Homo sapiens: one gene and its partner. The protein of the gene in region 1 purifies or fractionates together with the protein of each later gene. This does not show direct contact. Each region holds a gene or a part of one and is shown on either strand. Other genes may lie near its edges.

What was found.
Region 2: the proteins of ARHGAP31 (region 1) and TIMM23 purify together in Homo sapiens (affinity purification with mass spectrometry; one large-scale study listed by BioGRID and IntAct). This does not show direct contact.

The regions. Positions count from the first base shown.
Region 1 is NC_000003.12:119,292,787-119,296,537, forward strand, and holds the start of ARHGAP31 (rho GTPase-activating protein 31), read left to right. Parts: upstream 1-1,596; 5' UTR 1,597-2,118; coding exon 2,119-2,218; intron 2,219-3,751. UniProt on the Homo sapiens protein: Functions as a GTPase-activating protein (GAP) for RAC1 and CDC42. Required for cell spreading, polarized lamellipodia formation and cell migration.
Region 2 is NC_000010.11:45,999,984-46,003,634, forward strand, and holds part of TIMM23 (mitochondrial import inner membrane translocase subunit Tim23), read left to right. Parts: intron 1-2,377; exon of another isoform or gene 2,378-2,501; intron 2,502-3,219; coding exon 3,220-3,335; 3' UTR 3,336-3,651. UniProt on the Homo sapiens protein: Essential component of the TIM23 complex, a complex that mediates the translocation of transit peptide-containing proteins across the mitochondrial inner membrane.

The DNA.
Region 1 (3,751 bases):
TCGTCTGGGCGGGACTACCTTGCAGGTGGGAGAGGAAGGAGACAAATGAGTCTGTGGTTACTTGAAGACATTTCACCAAGATGACTGGGGCAAATGCTTCTCAGTGTCACTGAGAGATGGAAAATGAAAAACAGGAAAGACAATTCATAGAGGTTGGGCTGCAAACTCAAGTGGCAGCAGAGGCCAGGCAGGTGCAAAAGGGGGAAGACAGGCCGTGGGGTCTGCAAAACTGCAAGAGTCGTCTCTCTAAAGAGGGTGCCTCCAAGGGGCCTGCCACAACTCAGCATCAGCCGTCCTTGCCATATGGGAATGCACTTGTGGTGTAACTAGATCTTCCATTTTTTCAAGAGAAGCCAGAAATTCAGATTTTATGTGAAATCTCTTAACTTTTTAATGCTAGCTACTAATTTTAAAACGTGTTAAAGCATGGTGTCTGCCAGCCAAGTACATCTATGGGCCAGATCTGGCAGGGTGGCTATCAAGTTGTGACCTCTGACATAGAGAAAATGTCAAGGGTCAAAGTTCATAGACTGTTAAGGTTACATAGAGAGACAGTGACTGTAAAGGGATTCAGTACCTAAAATGCTACGGATGCAGCTTTGCCAGCAATCTGAGCTGTATGACATATGCCCCTATCCTTCAAGCCTGTATATGGATTTGAATTTATACAGGAAGTTTCATCTAATCCTCAAATGGTTAAATCACAAGAATTTGAGTGCTTTCTGTGTGCTGAGTACACAGAAGTTAAAGAATTTAAAATCTAACTGGAGAAGAAAAAAACATGCCCTCTTGAAACAACTTGAAACAAATTATGAAAGAACCTGGGAGACTGCTTTCTTCACATTTCATGTGTCAGAGGCATCTTAAATCCTGGTTTGTCCCCCCCAAATCACTTCCATTTAGAAAACTTTGCAGTAGTGTGTGTGTGTGTCTTGAATATGTAACCAGAAATCTGATTTCCTGGGCAGTGGTTACAAAGCTGCAGCCTCTCTTTGCCCAGGGGTATCTTTACCCCAGAGTGGGAGGGGAGTGAGCTGAGGTGGGGGTGCACGAACGCTGCAGAGGAGGTTGGGATGGGAGTGGCCGGCGTGAAGCCACTGCCTGTCAGGTTTCTCCGCTGGAGTCCCCTGTTTGTCTCTGTCATTACTCTTTAAGTATTTGCGTAGCAGACAGGCGGGCACCGAAATAGAAAGTGTCAAAGATACGATGACAATGAGGATAAAACCAGGGCAGAGGGTTCTGAAAGTCCCAACCAGCACGGTCCCCGCAGAATGCCAGCGCACCTCCTCCCGCCACTTCAAAGAGCCGGCTCGGCGGGGCAGGAAGCGGCGGCTGCGGCTGCGGGTCCTGCGAGAAGAGCGCGATTTCCTCCGGGGCTGCCCAGTTATCTCTGGAGTCGCAGAACTGCTCTCGGGAGAACGCGTTCTCTACCCCAACCCCGTGCTCCTCAACCCACCCACCTACTTCCTCTAGCTCCACACACTCACAAGCACCGAGCTGCCAAAAATTTCCACCCACCGCCCCCCTCCCTAGCTAACTTCCTTCCAGCATTTCCTGAGCTGGATGATCCTAGGATTTGTAAGACAGGAAAAAAAGGAAGGCGTGAGGGCGGGCAGCAGCGACAGGATGCTTGTTTTTCGCTCTACCAAAGTCGTCTGAAGGCGAGACAGCGGGCCCAGGGCGCAGGACCCACCGCAGCCCCCTGGGCAGTCTCCTCGCCCCGCGTCCGCGTCGTCTCCGGGGCACTTAGTAAGGGGTGGGGAGAGCTTGCCCTCCCTCTTAAGCTGAGGAGAAACACCCGAAGACACCGCAGGAGCCTGTGAAAGTCCCTAGGACTCCAAGTGAGGAAGTGACACTCCCAGGCGAGCCGGCCCGCGGCTGCCAGTCTGCACGGCCTCGGCACGGCGGCCCCGGAGCGGCGCGGGGTGGATCTCAGGCTCTGCCGGCCCGCGGCCCGCGGGGTCCATGCGCAGGGCCCCCAGCCCAAGTTCTTCCATCTTCCGATGCGGCCCCCCAGAGCCGCGGGGCAGCCGGTGATCTAGCCCGGGAGCCCATCTTACAGCGGTGCCAAGCAGAGGGGCGGCAGAGACGGAGGGGCAGCCTCTTTGGGACTAACTCATGAAGAACAAGGGTGCTAAGCAGAAGCTGAAACGAAAGGGAGCCGCCAGCGCGTTTGGCTGTGACCTGACGGAGTATCTGGAAAGCTCGGGACAGGATGGTAATGTGCCTTGGCCTTTCTCCCCCGCCCCCACCTTCTTTTTGTTTGAGGGAGAGACGGACTCTCTCGAGTTGTGATAGAGTCGGTTCACAAGTTAATGTATTCCAGGCCTGTGCGCTCATTGCACTTTTTTTTCTTTTTTTTTTTTAAAGAACATAAACGATTCTTAAGGTGCACAGCGCTGCTGTCCCGACGCGCAGAGGCTGCTGTGTCAGTCCTTCCGTTTGCCTCACACAAGCTGTTAATGGGTGGTACTGCCGCAAGTTTACCGGGCCACCTCAGGGGATGGGGGTGGAAGCTGCAGAGGTCCCAATCCTAAACTTGGCACGTTGGAAGGGAGGGAGGAGGGGTGGACATGTGGGATGGTGATCAGTGGTCTTGCCTGGGTACAAAATCATGACCGCCTTAGCTGTCCCTCCTGGGCTCTCCAATTTCGTCTGCTCACATCTTTTTTTATTAATGTGTTAGAAGGCAGTTGCGGGTGGGGGGTGGGGGAGGATCCTGGCTGGGGGAGTGGTTGCACAAACATTTCTGAATTTCTGAGCTGATGCCAAATATATAGTACCTCCACCCCCTTTCCACAACCCCCTCCCCGCCCTGCAAGACCTTTTCCCTCCTCTTGGCTTTCAGATTAACATTTGGTGTGTCAGACAAGAAGAGTGTTGTAAAAAGGTCAGAGGGCCTCCATTTTTAAATAGTTTAGGGTAAGTAGAGAAAAGGAAAACTTCTCTGTTTTCAAGGTCAGATGGGGGTAGGGGGGAGTTGGGGATGGGGGAATCCAGCGGAGACAATTTAAACATTTGTTGGGGAAGGGGGAAAGAAAACACCATCTAGATTACAATAACAGCGTTTGAGCTTAGAAGTGTTTAATCATAGGAAAGTTGGAAAATTGAGCATTAAATGACTCCTTTTGTAAGGTTGACTGGTTTTGCACTTACCCTTGACAAAAAGGCCTTGTCTTCAGAAGCTTCAGCGAGAGGAAAATAGCCTACTATATAGGCCATGTGTTTATACATAGATAGATACAACAAAGGGGAAAACTAAGGGCTGTGTAACCGTGCGGAATAATTCTGCCTCCAGGAAAATAATCTCAAAACCTATTTGATTAGTCCATATCGAATATGCATTTCAAAAACAGTGCAATGCTTTTGTTTCACTTCTGTGTTTTGGGAGACTCAGCACCACCTAGTAATTTGCAGTGGTGTGATATTCCTGTGGTATTCTAGAGTTCAGTCTGCTGTGTCATTAGGACAAATAGCTTAGGATTTTAGAGCTTGGAGAACCACAGGTTTCAAAACTGACTCTTTTGAAATTGATGCATAACTTAACACTTCATTGAATCCTCACCAACCATCTGGAGAGGTAGATTTGAGATAAAAATCACTTGGTTTGAGTTTTTTTGAGTGTGAGAAAACTCCAAGTATGCCTCTTAACCACTATCGTCAGAAGTTTACAATGAAAGGTTCCTCTTCACCTATTTTTGCAGGGGCCTTCAAGTTAACCTCCAGGTACACTAGGAATGCTCCTGGGATG
Region 2 (3,651 bases), on another chromosome or scaffold:
CTGGCTCACTGGCGGTCAAAGTTTAAGGTTATCTCTCTTATTCCCTGAACATTGCTGGTACCCTGTTCTTTTTTCAAGGTGCCCAGATTTCATATTTGTTCAAACACACATGCTCTACAATTTGTGCGGTTAACGCAATTATCACATGGTCCTGAGACGACATACATCTTCCTCAGCTGACAGGATTAAGAGATTAAGGTAAAGACAGCGGCATAGGAAATCACAAGGGTATTGATTGGGGAAGTGATAAGTGTCCATGAAATCTTCACAATTTATGTTTAGAGATTGCAGTAAAGACAGGCATAAGAAATTATAAAAGTATTTGGGGAACTAATAAATGTCCATGAAATCTTCACAATCCATGTTCTTCTGCCATGGCTTCAGCCGGTCCCTCCGTTTGGGGTCCCTGACTTCCCGCAACAGATGGGGTCTCACCATGTTGCCCACGCTGGTCTTGAACTCCTGGGCTCAAGCAGTCCGCCCACCTTGGCCTTCCAAAGTGCTGGGATTACAAGTGTGAGCCACCACGTCCAGCCCCCAAGTATCTTAAAGCCTTATAGATTCCACTGTCACTATGTTACCCCTAGTGCATATGCCAAAGAGGATTCCCAGGGAAGCTTGTTATTTGATGGCTGAGAACTAATGTGAGAATCCTTCCACAAGGGCCAAGTAGATACCATGTTCTTAGAATGCACAAAGCAAAGAACCAGCTAGAAGCAGTGGTTTTGCAGCTCTTTCCAAAGCCCATGGACTGACTTCACAGTCCTGTGGATTATTGACTTATAGGTTCAGGGGAGTTAATCTGAAGTTGAATGTGTGGTTATAGGAAATAGTGTCTGCAAAAGTATTGTGTTTTCAATTACCGGCCCACCAGCATTTTTCCACTGACAAACAGCAGTGAGGGCACCTTGGCTATTGCTTGGTCTTACATTCAGAATGGGGTTTTGAGTTACTACATTTTGGCTACCTGCTTGGAAGAATCCTTATTACACTCAAAATTAGATCTAATAACTGAGCGATAGCAATGCTGTTGCAGATACCTTTAGCATTTATTCTCCTGTGCCTCATGGCTTATTTTTTCCACATTAGGAATTTGGTCTAGTTCACTTTCAGCTCTGCAGCTTTTTACTGATTTACTAGGCAGAGACATGAGGTCGATCCTTATTAAACTGAACAGATTATTTTGAGTATACACTATTTTCCAATTAGTACAATTTTTCAACCACATTGAATACAGTTGGAAGTTTAATTGCTGTGCCTACAGTCTGAATATGGCAAGTTCACAAAGAGATGATGTGAACTTCAAGGAGATACCTCATGTTATACTTTTAGTGGGGTTTTTTTGGGTTTCTTAAAAATGTTTTTGGTCCCCCTACATGACAGCTGTTTATAGATAATGTCTGCAGTTTCTGTTTGAGAGAGATAATTATGACACTTAGCATTGGAAAACTAAGAAGAACGTAAGCAGGTCAGCTATCAGAAGTCTTCAGACTGGAGAGATTCCTGGAGGGGGAGTGGCCCTTTAATCCATCAGCTGAAGCCATCTGGTAGGACGCTCGTTGCAGAAATGGTTAGTTCTGAAATGTTGTAACTCAGCAACATCACTGAATGTCACAGAATTGACAGGCACGGAGCTAAAAGGGCCTCTAGCCACCCCCACAACTCCGCTCTACCTCTGTCTCCCTAACACATGACTTGGAACAAATACACTCTAGGTACAAAGATGGCTACCTGAAGTTTATGATCCCTACTCATGGAGCTGCTTGAGGACTTCACATTTTTTAAAAAGCTGCTTTGGGCACCCCCATTCCTGAGGAGTTTTGTAGCTTGGTTTCTCTTTGCCACATTACGTTTGTAAGACTAACATTTTATAACCATAAGCAGTTAGGCCTTTTTATTTTGAGAAATTTATCTGTAGCTTCCTTTTATTTACACTTGGGGACTATTTTTAAGTAACCGATTGAAATATTTTTGTTTCTCCATTGCAAGTGAAATCCTTGTTGCTAATCTTTTGCCACATGTAAAATTGTTCACTTGTTATCAAGCAGGTAGTTCAATATCTGTAATTCTTGAGTTCTTTTCAACTAGCATGATGCTAGGTGTCACTCACTGTTTTTTAATTGTGGGAGATTGATGCGTCAGTGCATGAAGTGGGGGGTGGTCACCAGCATCTAACTCAAAGTGTGATTATAGCTATCTTACCACATTTTTTTTTTCTTTCTCACTCTGTCACCCAGGCTGGAGTGCAGTGGTGTAATCTCAGCTCACTGCAGCCTCGACCTCCTGGGCTCAAGCGATCCTCCTACCTCAGCCTCCCAAATAGCTGGGACCACAGGCGCATGCCACCCCACTAAGCTAATTTTTCTATTTTTTGCAGAGACAGGGTTTTGCCGTGTTGCCTAGGTTGTTCTCAAACTCCTGAGCTCAAGCCTGCCTCAGCCTCCCAAAGTGCTGGGATTACATGTGTGAGCCACCATGCCTGGCCGTCACTAATCTTCAAGGTTAATATTTGGAGGACCCATCCAGAGTCCAAAGGTTGTTAATACTCTTTCCAAATAGGGTGTCACCTTGTTTACATTACAGACTTAAATCCATTGACAGTGCTAGTGGAGTTCTAAATCATATTACTAGCAGGAAACGACTGTTCTAGTTGGAACTCCGTAATAAACTGCCATAGGAACAAATTGGAAAGTAGGGGGAAAAAAATTATGAATATGAAAATGTTAAGTCATATGTATTACACAAGTGGTATTACTTTAAAAACGTTGTCTCCTTTTTGAGATGGAATATTGATTTATTTTTAAAATGGTCTCTCCATTTCATAGTATTTTTTTTTTTTTTTTTTTTTTTTGACGGAGTCTCACTTGTCTCATCCTGTCGCCCAGGCTGGAATGCAGTGGTATGATCTCAGCTCACTGCAACCTCAGCCTCCTGGGTTCAAGTGATTATCCTGCCTCAGCCTCCAAGTAGCTGGGACTATAAGCACACATCACCACACCCAGCCAATTTTTTTGAATTTTTAATAGGGTTTCACTATGTTGGCCAGGCTGGTTGAACTCCTATCCTCAAGCGATCCACCCACCTCGGCCTCCCGAAGTGCTGGGATTACCTGAGCCACCGTGCCCAGCCCATTTCACAGTACTTTTTATTTAACCCTATCGTGCTAGGGCACTATGCAATATACAGCTATTTCATTTTCCTTTTGTCTCTGTTTCCCAGGTGGTCTTCGAGGGATAGCACGAGGTGGTCTGACAGGACTAACACTTACCAGCCTCTATGCACTATATAATAACTGGGAGCACATGAAAGGCTCCTTGCTCCAACAGTCACTCTGAAGATTTTGCCAACTCATGAATGGAGGACACTTCAGTAGTCATCTAGATCCTTTTATAAGACAGTTTGGAGTTATTCTCTCTCTTCTACCTACAATTAGTTTGAAAAATTGGAGATTTTGATTTGCTGTGATGAAAATCCTGGATGGCTGACCAAGACTGGCACTTGTTCCAGCCATTAGTGAGTTGAAGCCAAAGCCCTTTGGTGACTCACTGAGTACCATGGTTCTGTTCTCCTCTGGAGATCTTGCACGTATCTGTTTTCCTCCCCCATGAACTAGAAAACCACTTACTCCCAGAATTCAGGTCGTGCTTGTTA